2 separate regions of the Homo sapiens genome follow, and region 1 is linked to region 2. The links come from fine-mapping of genetic effects on gene expression. Tissue or cell type: whole blood. Region 2 holds a variant in brackets; the other region holds the start of a gene. All regions are shown on one strand. Distances are from middle to middle.

Region 1 (8,103 bases), 170 kb before region 2:
ACAGGAATCTCTGCCCACAGTTTGGACTGTGGCAGTTCCAGATAAAACACATGTTTAAATAAGAGTTCAAGCCAGGAAGTCTTGCCTGAATGAACTTTCTAGCGTGGGTAAAAAATGTCAGCTAACTGACATGCCAGTGACTACTCACCTCTCACCACAAGAGTCAAGTTTAGAAACAACACTTGCCCTCAACGAGTATTTGATGCGCTAAAGAGTTTTTCCAGAAACCAGGTCAGACCTTTTGGATAAATCAAAGGAGGCCCCTTGTGTGACATGCAACTGACTGTCCCTAGAAGATAAAAGAAAATGGGACTTCTGAAAACTTGCAAAATACCTAGAGCCTCTGCATGACAAAAATTCAGCATAAGTACACATTTTAGCTTTTCTAATTTCTTCTTGCCTAAAAAAAATCCCCCCAATAATAAGAATGATAGAAGAAACTAGTAACTTAAACCTTAAATCCTACGTTCATATCTTAGATTTTGAACAAATATTGAATCCTTTTCTTTGAATAAGAGATAAGACTTTGATAGTCTTGTGTAAGCAAATATCAGTGATCACACATACACTAGAAAAACACTTGATCTTTATGCCTATATTACTTACTGTTTCTATTTCTGATGTCTAATCTAAACAGCACTGCTGTTAGGATCAAAGTGACCATCCATGATGCACAGAGCACGTACCAGGGTAAAGTTCCAGCTGGGACGCAGGCATCAGCAATTGTAGAATTTGGGTTCTCCCTTCCTCAGATCCCTGACTGTCCTTGGTCATTCAAGAAAGATTCACTGTCCCTAGGCCAAGAGTCAGGAGCAAAACAGGAACACCAAGGGTATGGTCTGAGGATGTTGTCAGCAGGGAGCAACGTGCGTGTGTGTGCACATACACTAATTCTGAGACACTGTGCACAGCCCAGCTTTCTTGGAAAGCCATTTAAAAGATATATATGTGGCAACAGAGAGGAGGAAGTCTCAAGATTAAGAACAGCTTTTGAGTGTGTGTGTGTCAAAATATTCATTCCTATCACATGCAGTAAAACTGTATTCCAGAGCCATTAATACGCCCTGGGGGACTGAGGGGATTTGCAGCCTAAGATTTCAGACTTAAAGCCCGCTAAGGCCCTGAGCGGGGCAGCAGGGCAGGAGAAGGAATGGAGCGTTGAAGGGAACATTTTATAGACATTCTCCCTCATAGTGGCTGTACTAAGTAAACAATTAACGGGCACAAACTGCCACTCCAGTGTCTAATAACTACCTCTGCCAGAGCACCTGCCAGCGCCACCACCTTCCAGGTGTGTGATGCACATCATCTCGCTGAACTATGCTAGCCTCAGGAGAGGGTTGCTCTTTATTTTACAGGTGGGAAAACAGGGGCTTGGAGAGGTCAAGGAACTTGCCCAAAGTCACAGCATAGAAGTGACAGAATCCGAGTTTTGACCCAGATTTGATGGGTTCCAAAGCGTGAACTTATTTCTCCACTCCACAAAAATAAAACCTACTCTTCTTACAATATTTGAAAGAGCCCTCTTCTACCACTCTGCTGTTTGTTTTAAACACAGCTTGCTTATCTGTCTGGCATATTCGGTAGAAGTCTGTACTTTGTCAATGCCTGGTTTGCCTGGATTTCAGCTACCTGGCCCCTGGCATCTAAGCCTGGGTGAGAACAGGGAATCCACTCCTCTCTAAGATGCATCGTGGAGTTACTCTTTTACTCTTCCCTGAAAGTGATAGTTCAATCTTCAACAGGGGCTTTGAGGGAGAACAAACTCGACCCTTTGGCAAGCACGACTTCTGGCTTCACCGTTTTTTTGTTTTTTGTTTGTTTGTTTGTTTTTGACGGAGTTTTGCTCTTGTTGCCCAGGCTGGAGCGCAACAGGGCGATCTCGGCTCACTGCAACCTCTGCCTCCCGGGTTCAAGCAATTCTCCTGCTTCAGCCTCCCGAGTAGCTGGGATTACAGGCATGCGCCACCACGCCCGGTTAATTTTTTTTTTTTTTTTTTTTAGTAGAGACGGTTTCACCATGTTGGGCCAGGCTGGTCTCGAACTCTCGACCTCAGGTGATCCGCCTGCCTTGGCCTCCCAAAGTGCTGGGATTACAGGCGTGAGCCACCGCGCCCGGCCCTGGCTTCACCCTTAAAGCAGAAAGGCCAGAAGTCATCAAGGCCATGGGTTTACTAGCTTAGCTTCCCCAGACTTAATTTCAAACACCAACAACCGAAATGTTTCCTAGAATGCAGAGCTAATGAGACATCAACCTCTGTCATTTCCTATGTTTTTCACAATGTGCCAAAACAACTGCACACATTGGAGGCGTTTTTGAATGTGATATTCAGGCGACCTTGCCAAGCATTGTCTCATTTCCTTACTTTGTGGAGCATGAAACCCAAGGGAAGTTCTCACCCTCTCTCCAGGACCAAGCAGGACACTGGGAGCTGCTGTCCCGTCTGCAGGCGGGACTCCATGAAGGCCCCTGTCTGCCCTTCCAGCCTTTGCCACAAACCCTCGAACGCTGGCTGCACACTGGAATCACTTGGGGAGCTTTTAAAAGATACGGAGGCCTGGGTCTGACTCCGTGAGATTCTGATGGAATTGATCTAGGGTGCAGCCTGGATATCTGGATTTTAAAAGCTCCCCAGGTGGTTCTAAGCTGCTGGCACGATTGAGAACCCCTGCGTTCGACCACAGTGGGATAAACGATTCCGCTGACTGTGAAGTTCATCCCTCTCAACTTTCGCTACATGCTTCAAACTCGCGGGTTTCTCCGCTTGGTTCCACCCAGAGCTCCTCCAGAGCCGCGCTGCGTTCCGCCCGCACGCAAATCCCGCCTCCCTGCGCCTCCTCACTCGCAGCGCCCAGGACCTCAGAAAGGGCCTGCCCCGCGCGAATCCCCAGTCGCTGGGACTTACTTGGCCACCAGGTTTACAGACTTCGCAGCCGCTGAGAGCTAGAGAAGAGCCCGGAGAGCGCCATGGTCCGGGGACGCCGGGGCCGGGAAGCGCCGTGGCCCGGGAGGACGCTGCTCCCGCAGTAGCGCGAGGGAGGGGCAGGACCGGGGCGGCTGCCTCGCGGGCCCGGAACGGGAACTGGCTGCGACTACAGCCGCAGCCGCGCCCCTCTGTTGGCGCGCCCAAGAGCCTGCCGGCTGCTGGGAGAGGCCGCCGAAGGGCGGGGGCGGTCAAGGCAGGGTCCCACGGTGCTGCCATTCGCCCGGGTCTGGCGCGGGGGGGCGAGAGAAGCTGCGCGCAGAGGGACGCCCGGTGCGAGAGGGTGAGCCCCTGGCCACCGCGCAGGGCCGAGTGGACAGGCCCAAGTTCGCCCAGAGGTGACACACTTGGGAATTTGTGGTGCCATCGTGCCAGGTCCCTCCTCGTAAAAGTGCCTACCCAGCGCCTGCAACCAGAGCCAAAGCCTGGACATGATAGGGAAACTCTTGTTAAAACGCGACACGTGGTCCTGATGAAATGGAGGTTAACGTAATCAAATTTAAATTACACTGCATACATTTCAATTTATACTTTTTAAAAAATGTAAGCTTTTCTTCCTATCCTTAAATTTGTTCTTGGCAGTGTACATTTTATGTTCTATGCATATGCTCTAATAGGTTGTAAAAGAGTTTTAACATGCTAATAAATGTCCCCAATAAAATAGTTTTAAAACGTTTTGAATGGGGATCGTGTCCATAAGGGATATCATGCTACAGAAAGTTGTCACTTACTCACACTGAAGAAGTACATTCAATCATATAGCCACTGATGCTTGTGAGTATTAAAATTCCCATCAGAGGCTGCCCTCTGAGAAACAGAAAGTATGTTCTTAAATCAAAAGTGAAAGTGCAAACTAAAGTTGATAGGATCAAATGTGCCAACTTGTGTCAGGCCTCTGAGCCCAAGCCTGCATGTATACATCCAGATGGCCTGAAGCAACTGAGGAATCACAAAGGTAGTGAAAATGGCTGGTTCCTGCCTTAACTGATGACATTACCTTGTGAAATTCCTTCTCCTGGCTCAGAAGCTCCCCCACTGAGCACTTTGTAGACCTTCCACCCCCCCGGCCCCCGCCTTGCCCACCAGAGAACAACCCCCTTTGACTGTAATTTTCCACTACCCACACAAATCCTATAAAGCTACCACACCCCTAACTCCCTTTGCTGACTCTTTTTTTCGTACTCGGCCCACCTGCACCCAGGTGAAATAAACAGCTTTATTGCTCACGCAAAGCCTTTTGGTGGTCTCTTCACACGGACACGTGTGACATTTGGTGCCGAAGACCCGGGACAGGAGGACTCCTTCAGGAGACCAGTCCCCTGTCCTCACCCTCACTCTGTGAGGAGATCCACCTATGACCTCGGGTCCTCAGACCAAACAGCCCAAGGAACATCTCACCAATTTCAAATCGGGTAAGCGGTCTTTTCACTGTCTTCTCCAGCCTCTCTCACTACCCTTAAATCTCCCTCTATTTCCAATTCCAGTTCTTTCTCCTCTCTAGTAGAGACAAAGGAGACATATTTTATCCATGGACCCAAAACTCCAGCTCCGGTCACGGACTCAGGAAAACAGTCGTCCCTTGGTGTTTAATCACTGCAGGGACACCTGCCTGATTATTCACGTACATTTCATTGGTGTCTGATCACCGTGGGGATGCCTGCCTTGGTCATTCACCCACATTCCCTTGGTGGCAAGTCAATTGTGGGTCGCCTGCTTTGGCTGCTCAGCCACATTGCAGCCCAGGGCTGCTCACCACCCCCCTTCTCCGGGTCTCTACCTTCTTTTCTCTGGGCTTGCCTCCTTCACTATGGGCAACCTTCCACCCTCCATTCCCCCTTCTTCTCCCTTAGCCTGTGTTCTCAAGAACTTAAAACCTCTTCAACTCACACCTGACCTAAAACCTAAACGCCTTATTTTCTTCTGCAATACCGTTTGACCCCAATACAGACTCAACAATGGTTCCAAATAGCCAGAAAACGGCACTTTCAATTTCTCCATCCTACATGAGCTAGATAATTATTGTCGTAAAATGGGCAAATAGTCTGAGGTGCCTGATGTCCAGGCATTCTTTTACACATTGGTCCCTTCCTAATCTCTGCTCCCAATGTGACTCATCCCAAATCTTCTTTCTCTCCTGTCTGTTCCTTCAGTCTCCACCCCAAGCTCTGAGTCCTGTGAATCCTCCTTTTCTATGGACCCATCTAACCTCTCCCCTCCTCCCCAGGCTGCTCCTCGCCAGGCTGAGCCAGGTCCCAATTCTTCCTCTGCCTCCACTCCCCCACCCTATAATCCTTCTATCACCTCACCTCCTCACACCCGGTCCAGCTTACAGTTTCGTTCCGCAACTAGCCCTCCCCTACCTACCCAACAATTTCCTCAAGGTTAATGCTCCTTTTTCTTTATCCAACCTCTCCCAAATCAATTAGCATTTAGGCTTTTTTTCATCAAATATGAAAACATAGCCCAGTCCATGGCTCTTTTGGCAACAACCCTTAGACACTTTACAGCCCTAGACTCTGAAAGGTCAGAAGGCTGTCTTAGTATGCATTTTAGTACCCAATCCACTCCCGACGTTACATAAAGCTCCAAAAATTAGAATTCGGCCCTCAAACCCCACAAAAGGAATTAATCAACCTCACCTTCAAGGTGTACAATAATAGAAAGGAGGCAGCCAGACAGCAATGCATTTCTGAGTTACAATTACTTGCCTCTGCTGTAAGACAAAACCCAGCCGCACCTCCAGCACACAAGAACATCAGAATGCCTAAGCCGCAGTGGTCAAGCATTCCTACAGGACCTCCTCCATCAGGATCTTGCTTCAAGTGCCAGAAATCTGGCCACTGGGCCAAGGAATGTGTGCAGCCCGGGATTCCTCCCAAGCCATGTCCCATCTGTGCAGGACCCCACTGGAAATCAGACTGTCCAACTCGCCCAGCAGCCACTGCTAGAGCCCCTGGAACTCTGTCTGGCCCAAGGCTCTCTGACTGACTCCTTTACAGATCTTCTCGGACTGACGCTGCCCGATCGCCTCAGAAGCCTCCTGGACCATCACAGATGCTTTGGGTAACTCTTACAGTGGAGGGTAAGTCCATCCCCTTCTTAATTAATACGGAGGCTACCCACTCCACATTACCTTCTTTACAAAGGCCTGTTTCCTTTGCCTCCATAAATGTTGTGGGTATTGATGGCCAGGCTTCTAAACCTCTTAAAACTTCCCAATTCTGGTGCCAACTTGGACAACATTCTTTTATGCACTCCTTTTTAGTTATCCCCACCTGCCCAGTTCCCTTATTAGGTCGAGAAATTTTAACTAAATTATCTGCTTCCCTGACTATTCCTAGGCTACAGCCACACCTCAATGCTGCCCTTTTTCCCAGTTCAAAGCCTCCTTTGCATCCTCCTTTTGTATCCCCCCACCTTAATCCACAAGTGTAGGACACCTCTACTCCCTCCTTGGCAACCGATCACGCAACCCGTACCATCCCATTAAAACCTAATCACCCTTACCCCGCTCAACGCCAATATCCCATCCCACAGCACGCTTTAAAAGGATTAAAGCCTGTTATCACTCACCTGTTAACAGCATGGCCTTTTAAATCCTATAAACTCTCCTTACAATTCCCCCATTTTACCTGTCCAAAAACCGGACAAGCCTTACAGGTTAGTTCAGGATCTGCGCCTTATCAACCAAATTGTCTTGCCTATCCACCCTGTGGTGCCAAACCCATATACTCTCCTATCCTCAATACCTCCCTCCACAACCCCTCCATAGCCCATTATTCTGTTCTGGATCTCAAACATGCTTTCTTTACTATTCCTTTGCACCCTTCATCCCAGCCTCTCTTTGCTCTCACTTAGACTGATCCTGACATCCATCAGCCTCAGCAACTTACTTGGGCTGTACTGCCACAAGGCTTCATGGACAGCCCCCATTGCTTCAGTCAAGCCCAAATTTCTTCCTCATCCATTACCTGTCTTGGCATAATTCTTCATGAAAAAACACATGCTCTCTCTGCTGATCCTGACTGGCTAATCTCCCAAACCCCAGCCACTTCTACAAAACAACAACTCCTTTCCTTCCTAGGCATGGGTAGGTACTTCCGCCTTTGGATACCTAGTTTTACCATCCTGACTAAACCATTATATAAACTCACAAAAGCAAACCTAGCTGACCCCATTAATCCTAAATCCTTTCCCCACTCCTCTTTCCGTTCCTTAAAAAACAGCCCTAAAAGCTGCTCCCACACTAGCTCTCCGTAACTCATCCCAACCCTTTTTTCATTACACACAGCCGAAGTGCAGGGCTGTGCAGTCAGAATTCTTACACAAGAGCTGGGATTGTGCCCTGTAGCCTTTCTGTCCAAATAACTTAACCCTACTGTTTTAGCTAGCCCCCATTATTCCTGATACCACACCTGACCCCCATGACTGTATCTCTCTAAATCCACCTGGCATTCACTCCATTTCCCCATATTTCTTTCTTTCCTGTTCCTCACCTTGATCGCACTTGGTTTATTGTTGGCAGTTCCACCAGGCCTAATTGCCATTCACCAGCAAAGGCAGGCTATGCTATAGTAGTATCTTCCACATCTATCCTTGAGGCTACCACTCTGCCCCGCTCCCCTACCTCTCAGCAAGCCAAACTCATTGCCTTAACTTGAGCCCTCACTCTTGCAAAAGGACTACACGTCAATATTTATACTGTCTCTAAATATGCCTCCCATATCCTGCACCACCATGCTGTTATATAGGCAGAAAAAGGTTCCCTCACTACGCAAAGGTCCTCCATCATTAATGCCTCTTTAATAAAAACTCTTCTCAAGACCACTTTACTTCCAAAGGAAGCTGGAGTCATTCACTGCAAGGGCCATCAAAAGGCATCAGATCCCATCACTCAGGGCAATGCTTATGCTGATAAGGTAGCTAAAGAAGCAGCTAGAGTTCCAACTTCTGTCCCTCATGGCCAGTTTTTATCCTTCTCTTCGGTCACTCCCACCTACTGTCCCACTGAAACTTCCACTTATCAATCTCTTCCCACATAAGGCAAATGGTTCTAGGACCAAGGAAAATATCTCTTTCCAGCCTCACAGGCCCATTCTATTCTGTCATCATTTCATAA
Region 2 (8,103 bases):
TCTTGCTGTGGGCCTAAGAAACAGCACATGCCCCCTGGAATGACCAGCCCAGCAGTGGAGTCTGTGGAGACTGCTGAAGGAGCCCCTAGAGGGGACATTTCTGACTAATGCATAGGTTTTGCCGGGTGATGGTTCTGTGACGAGGGAGGCCTGCTGCAGCGCTGTATGGGAGGGCCCCGAGGCCTAAACAAACAAATACCTAAGAGGAAAATCTGGCAGAAACTCAGTCAACACAGGGCAGTGATGCCCTCTGCCCATTCCTCCTGCTAATTAACATGTCTAAGTGGCACAGCCCCCTCAGGAAAATTAACGGCACCTTCGAGGCAGAGCCTGGAAGCCATCCTGGGCATATTGATGAGTAGATTCACATGTTTTCTTTCTTTTTTTTTTTTTGAGACTGAACCTCACCCTGTCACCTAGGCTGGAGTGCAGTGGTGTGATCTCAGCTCACTGCAACCTCTGCTTCCCGGGTTCAAGCGATTCTCTTGCCTTAGCCTCCCAAATACCTGAGATTATAGACACGTGCCACCATACCTGGCTAATTTTTGTATTTTTAGTAGATATGGGGTGGTTTCACCATGTTGACCAGGCTGGTCTCGAACTCCTGACCTCAGGTGATCTGCCCACCATGGCCTCCCAAAGTGCTGGGATTACAGGCATGAGCCACCACTCCTGGCGTCGCTGTTGCTTTCTACAGCACGTGTGTGTGTTGGAAAGAAGAGACAAGGGATGTGTCTTTTTTTGCTGGCCCACACCCCAGCTGTCAGAATCACCCGGGGGCCTGTGAAGCGTGTGGATTCCTAGACCCCACCAAGTATGACTTCTGAAGCCTGCTGTGCAACATGCCACCCGGTTGCTTCCAGGTGTGCTCTCAGAACAGGGGGCCGGGCTCCCTGGCTGAAGGGGTCCCCCTGCTTCAAGCCCCTCCTATGCTCTCGGCCACCCCAGCCACTTGTTCCACCTGAGGCACAGCTGTTTACCACCAAACCCTCCCCGACCCTGGCTGAAATGTCACTCTAGGGAAGAACTCCCATTGGGCCTCCCAGCCCTAGGCCTGCCTCCATGACCCATGACGTGTGCAGGGGATACTTTGTTCTCCTGAGCGTGCCATTTTCTAGTCCCTTCACCTGTCCCTCATAGGACAGCTCCCTTCCCGTCCAGCTGCATCAGCACACGTCCCCCACCTGCCCAGGGCTTCTGAAGATGCTGGGGAAAGCACAAGCGGCACAGTTGGGCCTCTTTCCCTATTCTGTTTTTGGGGCATCTGGAGATCCGGGCCTGCATGGGGGTGAAGGGGAAAGAAGTGGGGAGGGCAGCTGAGGTCCTTGTGCCTAGAAGCCAGCTGGCTTGGGGCCACTGTGGGCATGGACTAGGAGATGGACAGGGCAGGGGGCTGGGGGCAGGCGCAGGCTGCAGGAGCCGATGTGTCTTTTGCCTGCCTTTTCCTTGTGCTGTTCTCAACCAGATTATGAGTTTCTTGAAACAGGAAACTTGTCTTTCTGTTACTTCCATATCTGGCACACCCTGGTGTTCTGTGAATGGGAAATGATGGAGGAAGGTGCGTGCGCCTCCCTCTCTGGGTCTGTGCGTGTGTTCCTACAAGTCTTTCTGTGTCCCTGCCCTTGTGTCATTTCCATCTGGGCCTCCCTCTCTGTGGCCGCGGGAATGTCGGCCTCCATCTCTAGGGAAGTCTATATGCTGAAGGGACTTTCTGCGAGTGCCATCCCTCACAGGTCTTGAGGCTTCAGGCCCTCAGGTAGCACCTCCACCATGGGCACTCCCAGCAGGGGACTGGGAGAGAAATGCCGTCCCTGCCATTCACCTCCTGCCCCACAGATGTTCCACCACTCGCCACTCCTGCCGCCGTGTGTCATTTACCAGCTTGTACCCCAGCAGGTACTTTCTAGCCGCACTTTGATGATGACCCAGGGACTTGGAGCTGTGCTGGGGTCAGGGCTCTGCCTGTTACTCTCTCTTGGAGTGGGGCCAAGAGGCTGGTGTGAGGACCTGTGGCTGGTTCAGGTCTTCCCCAGTTGTGTAAATCAGGGTGGGTGAAAGGGTTAAACAGGGACCCTAAGGGCCTCCAGGATCTGGGTGCTGGAACTTGCCTGCTACGGAGAAGGAGAGTCTGCTAATGAGGCCACTTTCCAGGAAGGCCAGCTCCACGAGGTGCTGCCAGCGCCGAAGCAGATGCTAATGAGGACTGGCTTGGCTTAAGGAACAGGTGCCTAACGAGCTTAACAAGTAGGGACCCAGAGAGATGGCCTAATGGCTCTGGTGGCATTTTAAGGATAGAGCTCAGTGGGAGCCACAACCAGGAGACGGAGTAATGAGGGATTCAGGGCTGGGGTTGGATCAAGGAGGAGCCTCCTCTGAACTGGAGAGAGAGCATATCGAAGTGCCTGCTGAACAAAGGTTAGCAACTTTGATGCTCTTCCTGGTGTTGGCCTTGGCAGGCCTGGCCTCCCAGCAGGGATCACAGGCCCTTGGTCCCTCCAGGGAGCAAAGGACAGTTGGCGTAATGAGCCGGGGGCTGCATTAAGAAGCAGTGATGAATGCCTGGGACTTGGTGCCAGGCTCTGCAGCGTCTGCTCCGATAAGCACTTGTTCACAGCCTCATCTGGCCACAGAAATCTCCAAGTGGCCTCTTGGGGGCCAAACCATTTGCGGCTCCTTGTTCTACAAGAGCCCTGATGATGCTAATGGATGCGGCCATCATGCTGCCACTGGGTATGCAGTAAGACTTTCTAAGATACCCTGAGTTCTGAGTTCTGTCACTTGAGAAAATAAAATCAGGGTGCCCCAACCTCCCTGCCCTCTTGACAAGAGAAGCAGGGCTCACACTTAACCTGCAGTGCATTCCCACACAGCTGGTGGTGAAAAATGGAATGAGCTGATGACATGGGCGCCCAAAGCCTACTGCAAGTCAGATAACGTTCAGTTCATCTTTTTCAGCCAAATTGAAAGGACACTTAATTAAACAGCCAGCTGATAGGTCATTTTTGGTGACAGATCACTATGCAGTTTTGACTGTACATCTCAGCAAGAGTATAGAGAATTGACTATCTGGAGTGCCAGATCATCTACTGAATTGAAAAGGCTTCTCAGCACACCCCACTATAAACAATAAAACATTAAAAAAGAAAAGAATTGATGCTGAGTCCTGATTTATTCTAGCAATAAATATTCACCTGTAGATTCATGAGCCATTAACTTCCTATCCATTTCATTAAGCTGTGTTTTCA[A/G]TACATTTTCCTTTTTAGGTTTAACTAGTTACTTATAAAAACTTTAGGTATCTATGTTGTTTTAATCAGTGGCTTACTGTATTTTGTATCAAAAAATAATTGTAATAATTCAACCCAGAAGATTATTTTAAAATCCCTTGAAACTTTGGTCATAGAAAATGAAATATTTTAATTTTCATTCATACATATATTGTGTGGCAGAGAAGTATGACAAAGTGAGCAATAAAACACTTTCAGCCATAAAAGTAATGCATTAGTATAAAATTCTATAGGGCAATGGAATGAAGCTACACATTAAAGAGGAAAGAAACAATGTAACATTTCCCACAATTAAAGCGGAGCTGGCCAGCCTGAGCAACATGACCAGACCCTGTCTCTACAAAAAAATACAAAAATTAGCCCAGCATGGTGGTGCGTGCCTGTAGTCCCAGCTATTCGGGAGGCTGGGTTGGGAAGATCACCTGAGCCTGGGAAGTGGAGGTTGCAGTGAACTGAGATCTTGCCACTGCACCCTAGCCTGGATGACAGAGTGAGACCCTGTCTCAAAAAAAAAAAAAAAAAAAAGAAGAAGAAGGAGAGCTGGGTCAGGTGTTTTTAAAATAGATGAGGGTGGGTGTTAAATCACCATGGTGATCAGAATTCATTTGATGTATTTTAAATTGTTGCAGCAGTTTTATTTAAAAATGTAAATATTTACAAAATGGCAGAAATCACACCTTTGAAGGATTTAAAACTTAAGTAAAAAATACTACATGTCAACTTAAAAATGTGCAAGACGGGATACATGATTTTTCAAAACTTATTTTTGTAGGGGGTACCTAGAGCATTGGTTTCTTTTGGAAGAAATGGCCTGATGCTTCTCTCTCCCTGACTCCTGCGGCTCCGCTGCAGGGACACAGGGACGGAAGCCAAGCCTGGAAGCTGCCCTGGTGGTCAACTGAGGGGCCATGTCTACCCTGCCCACCAGATTCCAGAGCCTTGGCCTTTGGGACAGGCCCTGGCTTGCTGGATGAGCTGCACACCTCCTCCAGGCTGAATCAAGCTGCCCTTGGTTGGGGGCTGGGGCCAGGTATTAGCCTGGTTGGAGTGATAAGGGACAGACCCGCCTGCAGGTGCTTTGACCATAAAGACTCCAAACCTACCAGAGGTCAGAGAGAGAGAGAACTGGCCCGAGGCCAGGGCCCGAGCCCACTAAGGAAGATGGATGTGGCCCCCTCAGACCCAGCCACGATCCTTGGCCCACACCACTCTTCGGGTGCCTGGGTGACTTGACCTGAGGGGAGGCCACTTCCAAGAGGCATGGTTTATTTCACAGAGAGCAGAGATGTTTCTGAAGGGGAGACTGGAGGGCAAAGGGCAATGGGGTATGAGTTTCAATCACTGAAGACATGGTTGGTTTCTGCTATTCCCATCCCACGCCTCCCTCCTCCATGCCTCTGCTCCTCATTTTGCCCCGCACGATGCAACTGGTTGACTAAGGATGTGGCTTCCCTGATGGCGTCTTCCTTGATTGCCTAATCTGTGGACTAGGCAGAGAAGGGGTCTCCCAAGAGAGGAAGCCAGGCCTGGAAGCCTGCATCCTTCATGGAGCCCCCAAGGCGGGAGGATGGCTGGGGAGGGGACACAGGAACAAGGGTGGGGTACAAGTGAGCCTCTCTAGGTGACAGCCCCTGGGATAAGGCAGCCAAACTGATCCTTTGCTGGCGTACCCCACCCAACTGCAGGGGCACCACTGAGTGTGGAGGCCAAGGGCCAGTGCAGGGCCACACCATTGCCTGGCTGCTGGCTCCATGAGTAGGGCAGGGGAGCCCTGTGTCTGCTACTATAAATAGCTGTGTGTGTTGGACAGGTCCTTCTCTGCTCTGGGCCCAGTAAGGCCCTGGCCAGAGAGGCTGGGATGGGCAAATGCCTGCAGACATCTGACTGGCTCTTCTCAGGGGGTCCTGTGAATTCCCTCTGCTTCCTCTTGCGCTGAGCCTGGTGGCCCCCACTCATCCCTGTCCCTTGCAGTCCCCCTTGGCTGCCGCACCCCCTCTTTCCTGCCAGGCTGGAGAGCTGGTCTCTCCCCTCCCATCTCCTGCCCCACGAGAGCCTGCCCAGCACAGAGAACCCAGAGGAAGAAGGTGGAGGAGGACAGGGGAGCTGTGCAGGTGGGCGACCGAGGGGTCACACAGCGGCCGTCTGCTTGATGCTGTGGAAGCTGATCCGTGTGGGTGATGTAGGGATGGACATGGCCCGGGCCATGGGGACTCGAAGGGAGTGATGGTCCTGCCAGCGGTGCCACCTCTTCCTCACGGCTGAGCGCACCTGTGGGGAAGGCAGAGGCTCAGCTGGCTCCCAGGGACCAACCCTGGGCTTCTGGGACCATCCCCTCCTCTGCTTTCTGCTCTCATGGGTCGACTGCCACCCTCATGACAAGGAACTGTCTGCTTCCAAAACAGGTCCTTCCCTGATGCTGTTGCCTCTCTCCAGGGGCCTCTTCCTTATCCTTTTCCTGGAGAAGCTTGACTCCACACCTCCTTTACTCCACACTGTCCTCCCAGATCATCCAGTTTCCTCTGGACACACTGCCTTCCCTTCCCTGACTCACTCTGCCACCTCAAAATTAGCATCTTGGGACCAGAGAGCGCAGCTTGGAGACTTGGCCCCCTCAGCCTTCTTGGGCCCCTGCTCCTTGCAGGGCGTTGGTGGTGTGCGCCCAGCTCACACACCTGGTGCGCCTCCTCCTCCCTCCTGAAGACCGTCCCCTCTGCACCCCTCCACCTTCTCTACCTCCTGCTAGACTCCCCTGCCTGACTAACCATGGCATTTACTGCCTGAAAGGGAAAGCTCTCTGTCTTGGTCATTTCTAAAGTTGGCTCTACCCGGTGCCATTTAAGCTTCATTTGTTTGGTAATTGAATTTTTTTGGAAATTGGATGGTGTCTCTCACATCCTAGCTTGCACATGGTTCGAACAGAATAAATGCTCCATAAACATCCCTTGTTTGTTTGCCTTACTGGCCCCCTCTCTTCTTCTCATCCAGCCCACAGGACCCGTCTCTGCTGATGGACTTTGCAAGTGGAATGTGCTATCATCCACAGAGACACAGGCCTGCATAGACACCTCGCCAGTGCCCTGTGCAGAGACAGGCAAGTGTATTCCTCTGGAGTGTTCGGAAGCTCCCAGGCCCTAGGGGCTGTGTCTGCTCTTTGCTCCATGTCCTCATCCACCCCAGCCCAGGTACGAGTGCGCTTCTTCCCTGCGTCAGCTGCACTGGGGCTTTGGGCCTCATGATTGGCTTGCACATGCCAAGCTTCACGGCCGCCTGACTCCCCAGAGCCTGCTCTTGGTGTGTGGGCTTTTCTGTGGCAGGTAGCGGGGGAATGTGCTGGTCTCTCTTCTGCTCCCTGAGTCCATACAGACCTGATTGCTTGGCACACATCTCTTTCTGGAAGCTTCCTTCTGTCACCACCTCTGCTCTGGCTTCTCTCTTCCATGAGGCCCTGCGGCCTGGGCTTCCTTGCTCACCCAGCTCTGAGTGCACATGTGGGGTGCTGGCATGTTATTTCGGGGCTGCATAGTTGACCTTCTAAACTGGCTCCAGCCCCTGTGAGAAGGATTCCTGTTCCCCTAAGGCCGGGTGGTATCTCAAGGCTTCCTCTCCCTGGCACTCCAGCAAGGCCGGGCAGCACCAATGGAGCTGCCCTGGAGTGGGGTCTGAGGACCTGGATATCCCAGGCCACCCCGAGGGCCCAGCTTCATACCTCTCCATTGAAGAAGCAGTAGAAGACAGACACGAAGAAACCCTGGAAAGGAGGGAAAGGAGGGAGTGGTCAGTGACCTACCTGCGGAGCTGTTCTGCCTGGTGGGGTGGCACTGGGGACAAGATGGTGGGGGGGGGACAATTTGACCCAGGAACCCCTGGAGTCAGAGCTGGGTGGGGTCCTAGCCTCAGGGTGCAGATATTCCACGGTCCACTCTGAGTGAGCAGTGGTCACAGGCCTGGAGCCAGGCAGACTCCGGTCTCCTCAATATTGTGTGACCTGTCCCAGGGCATTTGGTTGGGCTGCCTGCATCCTCAGAACAGGTGCTGGGACAGTAGGTGCGGGCTGGTAGGATGAAGACCCAGGCTGGGATGGGGATAACTGGCCAGGCTCAGGCTGAGCATGTACGGGCTTCTAACTCTGTGGATGTAACTGAGCCATGGGTGTGCCAGTCCCACGGGACCCCCTTAGTGAGGGCATGGCTGCCAGAGCAGCCTCAGGAAAGCTCACTGTGGGGCCCCCATCTGGTCACAGGCCCCACCTGGAACGACTGCAGGAAGGAGTTGAAATAGATGAACATGATCTGTGACAGGTCGTCCTCCCCGGGATTGACGAAGAAGAGCATGTAGGTGATGCCCAGGAGGGGCAGGAGCACCAGGGTGGCCTTCACTGCCTTCCTGGGGGCGAGAGGTGGACACAGGTCTGAGCCCATGCGGCAGGCAGGGCCTCACCCAGTGGGCGGCGGGAGACAGTGGTGGTGTTTCTTCCGGGAGCTTGAGCGAGCTCCCTGGGTGAGGCCTGGGGCAGAGGGCTCTGCCAGGAAGCAGGGGGACGGCCCGATGACCTCCTCCTGTCCCCATTGTGGGGTCAAGGGACCCCCTCACATACCTGTACTGGATTGTCTCGGATGTGGTGGACGCGCGTAACTTTGTCATTAGGATCCTGACGATGTTGAACAGAAATACGAAATTGATCTGGAGGGAGGGCGGGCATGGGAAAGAGGGAAAAGGAAGGAGCACGTGTTTGAGATGAGCCGAGAGGCAGCCCCCTTCCCCGCAGACCCCTGGAAACCGATGTCCCACGCACACACCTATCCTACCTGTCCCCCTAGCA

What was found. PIP is the estimated chance that this variant, and not a neighbour inherited with it, causes the effect.
Region 1: it holds the start of NOD1, and the variant in region 2 is fine-mapped to the expression of NOD1 in whole blood (TOPMed, PIP 0.95).

What each region holds. Positions count from the first base shown.
Region 1 is chr7:30,475,700-30,483,802 of GRCh38, forward strand. NOD1 (nucleotide binding oligomerization domain containing 1) reads right to left here and starts at 3,085. Exons shown (of 14, transcript NM_006092.4): 1 at 2,907-3,085. RefSeq lists an enhancer at 2,581-3,325 and a silencer at 2,974-3,213.
Region 2 is chr7:30,648,049-30,656,151 of GRCh38, forward strand. It overlaps CRHR2 (corticotropin releasing hormone receptor 2), which reads right to left. Exons shown (of 12, transcript NM_001883.5): 9 at 7,879-7,964; 10 at 7,532-7,667; 11 at 6,991-7,032; 12 at 3,894-5,552. The coding sequence ends at 5,412. It overlaps LOC124901609 (a long non-coding RNA gene), which reads left to right. Exons shown (of 2, transcript XR_007060276.1): 2 at 6,270-8,103. Among named protein-coding and RNA genes, the nearest start is that of CRHR2, 30 kb to the right of the region's middle. RefSeq lists enhancers at 4,843-5,832, 6,681-7,880. The variant A/G (reference allele first, on the strand shown) is at 3,246.